3 linked regions of the Homo sapiens genome follow. The protein of the gene in region 3 purifies or fractionates together with the protein of the main gene of each other region. This does not show direct contact. Each region holds a gene or a part of one and is shown on either strand. Other genes may lie near its edges.

Region 1 (3,655 bases), on a different chromosome or scaffold from region 3:
CATGATATTTGTTTCTTATACTTTTAAAAAGTAAACAGAAAATGAAATCATATCTTTTATTCTCAATAATGTTACGTTTTAAACATAATCCAAATCTTAGAAATTTATTCTTAGATTTAGCAATGAGACTCTAAGTAATTATCTGGCAAATAGCATTAGCACAAAGGCTCAAGCCTCTTACCATCAAATCCATCTTCTTCTGACCCTAGTTCATCATCTGAGCAGATGTTGAGGACATTTACCAGCATCTCAGTCACTAAAGAGAGAAAGCAAAGAAAGAAAAGTCAGGGTTTTCTGTTATAACCTTAACTATTACTCTGGCATTGTTAATGAGCAAACTTAGCAATAACATTTCTTATTTAGTTTGTATATAGAAGCAGTTTCAGTAAACATCCAGATCATAAAAGACAGCCTTTGTGATTCTATGCAGACTTTATGAAACTATTAGCTGATGCTTATGATATCTAATGGTAACATTTACTAGCTCTAGGTCAATAGACAATGACAAATCAAATATGTGGATGTGAATATACTACAAATCAATGAAAGAGAAAATAGTTTTTTTGAATTTTTATTAGTCACACAATGATAAGGCTTAATCTAGATCAGATTACAAACTTCTGTTCAGTAGGGACTAAGAATGATGATTTTTCTTATATTTTTAATCACCTAGAGAACTTCACGCCATTATAGGCATGTGGTTTTGTGTTTAATACAAACTGTTGATTGATAAACTAATATATTTGAAGTATTTTTCAGAATACTAATTTTAAAAATGTATTGACAGAAATATCATTAAATTTGATTTTCAAAAATGCTTAAAAAATTAAACAGTTGCAGTTTAATCAGAAATTTACTTAATAGATTACAATAGGATTACATAAAAGTGTTGTACAGAGGAAATTAGTACTGCATTATTTTTATACTATAAACCATGCTATTTACATTTAATATTTTTTGAAATTAGATTGGATTCTACCATGCATGTGAAAAGAAGCCTGTCTACTGCTTCTTTGAGAGCTACTTTTTAAAGTAATATGCTATTTAAAAAAATGTCCTTCTAGAATTGAAGATGAATGATAGAGAGTCAAACTTCAATAGAGCCAACACTGATCCAGAGTTTCAGTTTAATTATCAAAACTGGATTTTGTGTACCAATAGATTAATATGTTAATTTCTAATAAATGTCCCAAATTTTAATAATTAATAGAAACAACCCAAATAAAGGATGTTCAAAAGGTGCCCCATAGTTGTCAGCATCCACACTGCTTCTGTTTCCAGCGAAGCCAACAGATGACACTACTCCAATTTGATCAGTGCAAGAAAGTTGCAATATGGAGTAGTATTGGGAATATTTATCAGAGATTATTAAAAATTTACTTTTGATTATTTTGATATTCAAAGGGAAGGCTTCTTTGCCAACAACTCATAACTTGACTGGTTTAATCATTTTAGGGCATTTAAAGGGAAAACAACCATTAGGGTTTCAGAAAAATATTTAGCTTTTCTCTGATACTCCTCATAGAACATCATTACTCTGATACTTATAGGAACATTTATTTTTCTTACAATGCCCATTCACCTTCTCATGGAAAGTATGAGAAGATACATGAGAATCAATCCGTGTATCACTGTTAGGCCTCCTGAATGAAAAACAATTGGTGCAGACATTTCCCCAAAATTTTTGTTGGGGTTTAAGTCAACATATGAAAGCAAAACAAAGGAGGAAAGAAGGAAGGTAGGAAGAAAGTTAACAAATAACTTTCTAAAATGTAAATTTGTCTCCTGTTCTGTACCTTATAATGCGCTAATGCCTACATTATTGATGAACTACTTTGCTGTTGTACATGTTGTTCTTCAAAATATTGTAGCCATTAAGCACTATCGTACAATAATTTATTAACATCAGAAATGTAAGGAGAGCATGGCTATCCTAATCTTTTAATTTGGCAGATAATTTGTAAAATTAAATAGTCCTTTGGGATTATAGTACAAATGGGTAAGGAAAAAGGGTAGACATTACTTGAAACCAGGTAAACCTGTATTTCCATTATTTTTTAAAGCGTTATATTATTCTAATAAGATTGTAAAAATTTCCTAAATATTCCTGTGTTTTGTTTTTTTTTTTGCTTCCCCCTCATTCACCAATTGTGTCCTGTTAATAGGATACAGAGTGACACACTGCCACTTCCAAATCACATCTTTCATTGTACAACTTGTGAATTTTATTGGCTGGGCCAAAGTTCTTCTCTTTCTGAGTGTTTAATCTCCTTTCCTTCCTTCCTAAACTATTTTAAGAAGAACATCTCAGGATTCCACAACATACCTTTTTCCCCAACAAATGGAAGGGACCAAGTAAAAACATCCATGAAATTTGGAAGCCAGTATGGATGAGGAGAACAGTTGAATTGCCTGATATTCATAACATTGTTCTCATACTTCAATACTGCAGCTAAAAATAACCAAAAGAGGATGTTAGGAACACAGAACATATTTCTGCTTCTATGTATGGCTTTAGCTCATCAAGAAAATTCAACCATTTGACTGAAGTTCCAAAACATCCAGGCTCACACCTTAGGCATCCCAGAATGCTTATACAACTTATGGACTTAAACCTTACTCAGGGTAATATATAACTGCACAATATATGAATAATTAATATGTAATTGTGTAACAAATTGGAAAATATTTACACAAAATAGTTAATCCAATGTCTGTCAGGAACTGATTCAAGCTCCCCTTTCAGCCAAGAATACTTTGGTCTTAAAATTTGATATCTGATGACACTAATAAAAGTGGCACAGCTAAGTTTGACATAATAATCTCCTCAAATATTTGAATGAATTTATTTTTAAAAAGTAAAACTTCAATAGAACTCCCAACAGTTGTACAAAATAGTTTAAGTTAGATTGCTTTAATTTTTACTTTATTTTTTAAATTAATATAATAATTGTACATAATTATGGGGTGCATAGTGATGTTTTGACACATATAATGCACAGTAATCAGATCAGGGTAATTAGCTATACATTAAATACCATATCAAACATTTATCATTTAGTTGTATTTGGAACATTCAATATTCTCCTTCCAGCTATTTGAAATTATAATCTATTATCGTTAACTATAGTTACCCTATAGTAGACTGCTTTCTTGACTTAATAAAATAAAATGTTTGGATTGAATCCCACATAAAATAATGTGCTTCTATCTGACTCTATCCTTGATTTCTGAAAAAGATGTCCATCCATGACTCAGGAAGACAAATCTGCATGCTTCATGTCTCTGTGAGTACTTTCAATAAAGGAAAAGTCACCTGTTTTAATGAGGTCACCTATTCTATGGATAGACAATTTGAAGTTGCAGGAAATTCTCAGGTTGCATTTAAACCTGCCTTTACCAGTCACTGATCATGGTTTTGCTATGCATTTCATATTTAATATTTAATGTCATTCTGCTTCTGAATGACAGCCTTTTAAATATTAAATATGATACTCAAGCATACCTTCTTAGGCTTTGGCAAGATTTCATTTTTATTATCTATTCAGGGCATAATTTGTATTACATTAGAAGACAGTAACCAACAGATTTTATATGATATCATATGATCTTTTCTTGCTTATGTTATGGGGTTGAAAATACAGAAAAAGTAATC
Region 2 (3,655 bases), on a different chromosome or scaffold from region 3:
CATGAGCTCACTGCAACCTCTGCCTCCCAGGTTCAAGCGATTCTCCTGCCTCAGCCTCCTGAGCAGCTGGGATTACAGGCGTGCACCACCATGCCCGGCTAATCTTTGTATTTTTAGTAGAGACGGGGTTTCACCATGTTGGCCAGGCTGGACTCGAACCCTTAACCTCGTGATCCGCCTGCCTCGGCCTTCCAAAGTGCTGGGATTACAGGCGTGAGCCACCACGCCCAGCCAATTTTTTGTAGTTTTAGTAGAGATGGGGTTTCACTATGTTGGCCAGACTGGTTTTTTTTTTTTTTTTTTTTTTCTTCTGAGACGGAGTTTTGCTCTTGTTGCCCAGGCTGGCGTGCGATGGTGCAATCTCAGCTCACCGCAACGTCTGCCTCCCAGGTTCAAGTGATTCTCCTGCCTCAGCCTCCCAAGTAGCTGGGATTACAGGCATGCACCACCACGCCTGGCTAATTTTGTATTTTTAGTAGAGACTGGGTTTCTCCATGTTGGTCAGGCTGGTCTTGAACTCCTGACCTCAGGTGATCCACCCACCTCAGCCTCCCAAAGTGCTGGGATTACAGGCGTGAGCCACCGCGCTTGGCCTCTCTCTTCTTTAGCTCTACACAGAATACTGTCTTCATCTCTCTAGTTTAATTACATCTTGGGTCTCCTGAAGGACAACACTTATCAAATTCTTTTTTCAAAGTGGATGGTGCTCATTTTTCCGCATTCCACTAATCTCAGTGGAGGCTTCAGCATTCTCTTAGCTCCGCATTAGCACTTCCAACATCATCTCTCCACTAAGGGAAAAAAAATGCCTCCTCCTTTGAGATTCATGCCTTCTGGCTAGTTTACCCTTGTCCCTGCTATCTATTAAACTAATCATAGGCTGGGTGCCGTGGCTTAAATCTGTAATCCTAGCATTTTGGGAGGCCAAGGCGGGTGGATTACCTGAGGTCAGGAGTTTCAGACCAGCCTGGCCAACATGGTGAAACCCATCTGTACTAAAAATACAAAAATTAGCTGGGCATGGTGTCGGGCTCCTATAATCCTAACTACTGGGGAGGCTGAGGCACGAGAATTGCTTGAACCTTGGAAGCAGAGGTTGTAGTAAGCCGGGATTGGGCCACTGTACTCCCGCCTGGGCGAGAGTGAGACTTTCTCTCAAAAGAAAACTAGTCATCATAGGCTCAAGTTTCTGGCCCACAAGTCTTATCCATTCTAAGTTCCACCATTATCAAAACCTATCTAAAACTTAAGAACTGGCCAGGTGCAGTGGCTCATGCCTGTAATCCCAGTACTTTGGGAGGTCAAGGTGGGTATATCGCTTGAGGTCAGGAGTTTGAGAACAGCCTGGCCAACATGGCGAAATCCCGTCTCTACTAAAAATACAAAAATTAGCGGGGCGTGGTGGCAGATGCCTATAATCCCAGCTACTTGGGAGGCTGAGGCAGGAGAGTTGCTTGAACCTGGGAGGCAGAGGTTGCAGTGAGCCGAGATCATGCCACTGTACTCCAGCCAGGGCAACAGAGTGAGACTCCATCTCAAAAAAAAACCAAAACCAAAAAAAAAAAAAAAAAAAACAAACAGGAAAAACATAGGTATTAAGAAATGTTTACAGAATTAATGATTATAGTTTCCAAAATACTTGTTTAACGACACTAATTTATGTAGCAATGACAATATATTTATAGTGTTTTATTCATAGTTGACCAAGTACTTTCACATACATAATCCTACATGATTCCCAGGGACATCCTTTGAGTTTGGTCAGGCAAGTTTTTGTTTTTTTTTTTTCCACAGAGTCTCGCTCTGTTGCCCCAGTTGGAGTGCAATGGTGAGATCTCAGCTCATGGCAACCCCTGCCTCCCAGGTTCAAGCGATTCTCCCTACCTCAGCCTCTCGAGTAGCTGGGATTACAGGCGCCCACCATCACACCCGGCTAATTAGTATATTTTTAATAGAGACGGGGTTTCACCATGTTGGCCAGGCTGGTCTCGAACATATGACCTCAAGTGATCCGCCCGCCTCCACCTCCCAAAGTGCTGGGGTTAGGGTCAGGCAAGTTTTATCTCCCATTTCACAAATGATAGATAACAGGTTCAGAGACATTAAGTTGCTTCTCCAGGGGTTTCACTAGTAAGAAGTAGAGCCATAGTTGAAATTGAAGTCTTCAGAATGCTGCTCCTGTAGCATATGTCTTTATACCAACACAAGGACAATTTTCTTTTGACAAAAGGAGACATCAAAAGGCTGATCATGGCTGGGCGTGGTGGCTCACACCTGTAACTGCAGCACTTTGGGAGGCCAAGGCAGGACAGTCACTGGAGCCCAGGAATTTGAGACCAATCTGGGCAACATAGTGAGACCTCTGTCTCCATAAAAAATAAACAAAATTAGCCAGGCATGGTGGTGTGTGCCTGTAGTCCCAGCTACTTGGGAGGCTGAGTTGGGGGATCGCTTGAGCCCAGAAGTTTGAACCTGCAGTGAGCTATGATCATGGCGCTGCACTACAGCCTGGGTGACAGAGCAAGATCCTGTCTTGAGGGTTAAAAAAAAAAAAAAAAAAAAGCCTCATCATGAAGAATGATATAACCATTTGCTTGCCAGGAGTAGAAGTATGGATTGGCCACATGCTTTAAGGAAAGATTCAATAAATCCAACAGCATTGTCTTCAAAATTTCAAGGTATCCATTGGGTCTCTTTTAATTTGTGGTGGTTTTTAAATATACCTTTCCCTCAAAATTGGCTCCCCTTCCTGGCTTACACCTGTTAAGGTATCACCATTCTCTATCACTCACACTTAATGTCATTGTTCTCTTTCTGAACTCTAAGTCCTATTGATTCTTCAAATTCAATTTTCTTAAATCTCCACTGTTGCAATACTAGTTCAAGTTCTTATCATTTACTAGAAAAATCTCTTCTTCCTCTTTGACTGAACAAAGTAGTAAATTAACCTACTCAAAAACTTGGGGTAGTTTCTTAATGACTAAAGAATAAAGAAAAAGAAAACTTTGGATCTTATTTTCAAGGTTCTTCTCAATTTAACCATTCTCAGTCTTTTACATATCATTCCAATCTTTGCATCTAACTACAATTGCCCAATTTAATCTAGCCCTAAAGCAAAATTATTCTGATTATTGTTTCCTAAAAAACTGTTGCTCACCTATTTCACTTCCATACTCAATCACTCATCCAATATACTTACCTTCTAATATTAGTAGGAATTTGTGTCGTATCTAGTTTTTCATGCCTTGGTCATCCCTCACTTGGACTACTCCATTAATCTTCTAATTAGACAACCTGCTTTAAGCTTCTTGCCCTCCAATAATTTGTTGCACACAATATGGCCAGAATTAGCCATCAAAAAACAAGATACTGGGTCACTATTCTACTTTAAAACCTTCAATAATAATAATAATAATAATAATGGTGATGGTTACCATTGGTTGAGTACTTACCATGTGCCAGGCCAGGAACTGTGGTACCTACTTTATATGCACGGTCTCTATTAATTCTCCAAAAACCCTATAATAAGATTTTATTAGCTCTACTTTACAGATAAGAAAATTAAGGCTTGGAGATGTTAAGTATCTTGTCCATGGCAAGAAGGTTATTAAGTAGTAGAGCTAGGATTCAAACCCAGGCAGTCTGACTCCAGAGC
Region 3 (3,655 bases):
AAAACTGAGGTACAGACAAGCCAAGCCATCTGCCCAAGGCTAGTCAAACAGGGGAGACACAGAGGCCAACTCGACTGCCCAAGGCTAACCAGATGGGGGAGGCAGAGAGGCCAAGTCGCCTGCCTAAGGCTAGTCAGACGGGGTATTCAGGCCTTGGCCTCCCCCTCTGCCTGCAGTGCTGCGTTACATAGCCTCATCTGTGTCAGCTGCCGAATGACCCACAGCTGCACTAAGCACTGAGCGATATCCCTTTTTCTTTTTGAGACAGGATCTTGAAGGTCTGTGGCCCAGGCTGAAATGCTGTGGCATGATCATGGCTCACTGAAGCCTCAACTTCCTGGGCTCAAATGATCCTCCCACTTCAGCCTTCCAAGTAGCTGGGACCACCAGCACGCACCACTGTGGGCGGCAAGTCACCCAGGTGCCGAGGCAAGAGACCGAGGGCACGAGCTGTTCCAGTGTAATAAAATATATAAAATAAGAATAGTTATACTAGATCTAGATCACAGACATGATTATATATGAATATCATTAATTAATTTGTAGCAATTACTCTTTATTCCAATATTATAATAATCCTCGCTCTACAATCATAACCTAGGAAAAACCAGGTCATACAGAGACAGGAGCTGGGGGGACATGGTGAGAAGTGACCAGAAGACAAGAGTGTGAGCCTTTTGTTATGCCCAGACAGGGCCACCAGAGGGCTCCTTGGTCTAGTGGTAACGCCAGCGTCTGGTAGGACGCCCGTTGCCAAGCAGACCATGGTCTAGCAGTAGCGTCAGTGTCAAGGAAAAACACCCACTACTTAGCAGACCAGGAAAGGGAGTCTCCCTTTCCCCAGGGGAGTTTAGAGAAAACTCTGCTCCTCCACCTCTTGTGGAGGGCCTGACATCAGTCAGGCTTGCCCGCAGTTATCCAGAGGCCTAATCGTCTCCCTGTGATGCTGTGCTTCAGTGGTCACGCTCCTAGTCCACCTTCATGTTCCATCCTGTACACCTGGCTCTGCCTTTTAGATAGCAGTAGCAAATTAGTGAAAGTACTAAAAGTCTCTGATATGCTGAAATAACGGCGTAAGCTGTCTCTCTGTCTCCTCTCTCTCTGCCTTGGCTGCCAGGCAGGGAAGGGCCCCCTGTCCAGTGGACACATGACCCACATGACCTCACCTATCATTGGAGATGGCTCACACTCCTAACCCTGCCCCTTTGTCTTGTATCCAATAAATATCAGTGCAGCCTGGCATTTGGGGCCACTACCGGTCTCCACGGCTTGGTGGTAGTGGTCCCCCGGGCCCAGCTGTCTTTTATCTCTTTGCCTTGTGTCTTTATTTCTACGCTCTCTCATCTCCGCACATGGGGAGAAAACCCACCGACCCTGTGGGGCTGGACCCTACACACCACCACACCCACCTAATTTTGAAATTTTTTGTAGAGACACGGTTTTGCCATGTTGCCCAGGCTGGTCTCGAACTCTCAGGCTCAAGTTATTCTCCCACTTCACCCTCCCAAAGCGCTGGGATTACAGCAGCCATGAACCACTGTGCCGGCCATTTTCTTCCATTTTTAGAGAAGGGTCTCACTCTGTAGCCCAGGAAGGAGCGCAGTGGCTATTCGTGGATGTGATCATAGCAAACTACAGTCCTAACCTCCCAGGCCCAAGTGATCCTCGGACCTCACTGAGTAGCTGGAACCACAGATCCCACCTATGGGACCATATATTCCCACATCACCATATCTGGCTTTTTTTTACTCTAACCTACTTGAGTATCAGAGGGCCCGACCCCCTCATGCCTCTGGTTTTCCAGATGTTTCCTACTGCTTTCATTTTTATTCATTTATTTATTTTGAGATGGATTCTCACTCTTGTCGCCCAGGCTGGAGTGCAGTGGCACAATTTTGGCTCACTACAACCTCTACCTCCCAGGTTCAAGTGATTCTCCTGCCCCAGCCTCCCCAAGTAGCTGGCACTACAGGCACCCATCACCACGCCTAGCTAATTTTTGTATTTTTAGTAGAGATGGGCTTTCATCATGTTGGCCAGGCTGGTCTTGAACTCCTGACCTCAAGTGATCCACCTGCCTCGGCCTCCAAAGTGCCGGGATTACAGGCGTGAATCACTACACTTGGCCTCATTTTTATTCTTTAGATGAACCTTTGAATAATCTGCTCATATTCCCAAAAGATCTTTTGTGTTTTGACTTGGTGTTGACTGATTTTACAGAAGTTAACGTATTTACACTATTGAAATTTTCTAGTCTAAAACAAGACTTATTTCATCTTCCTCAAAGTATAGTTTCTTCATTTAGAAATATTAGGCCAGACGCAGTGGCTCACGCCTGTAATCCCAGCACCTTGGGAGGCCGATGCGGGCGGATCACGAGGTCAGGAAATTAAGACCATTCTGGTTAACATAGTGAAACCCCATCTCTACTTAAAAAAAAAAAAAATACAAAAAATTAGCCAGGCGTGGTGGCAGGCACCTGTAGTCCCAGCTATGCGGGAGGCTGAGACAGGAGAATGGCATGAACCCGGGAGGCGGAGCTTGCAGTGAGCAGAGATGCACCATTGCAGTCCAGCCTGGGTGGCGACAGAGCAAGACTCCATCTCAAAAAAAAAAAGAAATATTAATCTTGGGCCAGGTGCGGTGGCTCACGCCTGTAATCCCAGCACCTTGGGAGGCTGAAGCAGGCAGATTGCTTGGCCTCTGGAGTTCGAGACCAGCCTGGGCAACATGACAAAACCGCATCTCTACAAAAACTACAAAAAATAGCTGGGGGTGGTGGCGTGCACTGTGGCCCCAGCTACTCAGGGAGCTGAGGTGGGAGAATCGTTTGAGCCCAGAACGTCAAGAGTGCAATGAGCCAAGATGGTGCCACTGCACTCCAGCCTGGGTGAGACCATCTCAGAAACAAAACAGAAAGAATAAATGTGACTCTTCTCAAGGTTCTTGGTACATATTGTGTGTACTTCTATTGCTGCACAACAAATCACCACCAACTTCAGGGCTGAAACCAGCACATCCACTTATCATCTTACTGCATTCGTCGTCAGGGGTGCAGGTGCAGCGTGGCTGGGACGCAGGCTGAATTCCAGGGGCCGGCTGCACTGCATTCTCATGAGGAGCTGGAGGACCCTCTTCTAAGCCCATTCTGGTTGGAGGCAGAATTTATTCCCGGTTCAAGGAATGAAGTTCCCGTTTTCTCGCTGCCCTAAAAAGCCTCTGACACTTTTACTGTCTGGCTTCCCTGATCAGGTCGGGCCCTAAAGAGCCTCTGACACTTTTACTGTCTGGCTTCCCTGATCAGGTCGGGCCCTAAAGAGCCTCTGACACTTTTACTGTCTGGCTTCCCTGATCAGGTCGGGCCCTAAAGAGCCTCTGACACTTTTACTGTCTGGCTTCCCTGATCAGGTCGGGCCCATCCAGGATCATCTCGCATTTTGATGACGTCAAACTCAATGGATGAGTGAGCTAATCGCAGGAGAGACACACCTCCCTCTTCCTCATTCCACCCACACTCGAGGGGAGGGTTACACATGGCTGTTTCCCAGGGGCAGGGATCGTGTGGGCTGTCTTGAGTCCTGCCACCTTGTTACCAAACCGCCTTCCAGGAAGATGTGTGCCTCCACAGCAACGTGTCCGAGCCCCTGATCCAGAG

What was found.
Region 1: the proteins of SPATA33 (region 3) and PPP3CA purify together in Homo sapiens (affinity purification with mass spectrometry; one large-scale study listed by BioGRID and IntAct). This does not show direct contact.
Region 2: the proteins of SPATA33 (region 3) and PPP3CB purify together in Homo sapiens (affinity purification with mass spectrometry; one large-scale study listed by BioGRID and IntAct). This does not show direct contact.

Annotation. Positions count from the first base shown.
Region 1 is NC_000004.12:101,060,906-101,064,560, forward strand, and holds part of PPP3CA (protein phosphatase 3 catalytic subunit alpha), read right to left. Parts: intron 2,453-3,655; coding exon 2,327-2,452; intron 257-2,326; coding exon 182-256; intron 1-181. UniProt on the Homo sapiens protein: Calcium-dependent, calmodulin-stimulated protein phosphatase which plays an essential role in the transduction of intracellular Ca(2+)-mediated signals. Many of the substrates contain a PxIxIT motif and/or a LxVP motif.
Region 2 is NC_000010.11:73,486,011-73,489,665, forward strand, and holds part of PPP3CB (serine/threonine-protein phosphatase 2B catalytic subunit beta isoform), read right to left. Parts: intron 1-3,655. UniProt on the Homo sapiens protein: Calcium-dependent, calmodulin-stimulated protein phosphatase which plays an essential role in the transduction of intracellular Ca(2+)-mediated signals.
Region 3 is NC_000016.10:89,664,272-89,667,926, reverse strand, and holds part of SPATA33 (spermatogenesis-associated protein 33), read right to left. Parts: intron 1-3,655. UniProt on the Homo sapiens protein: Plays an important role in sperm motility and male fertility. Required for sperm midpiece flexibility and for the localization of sperm calcineurin to the mitochondria. Promotes mitophagy as well as acts as an autophagy mediator in male germline cells.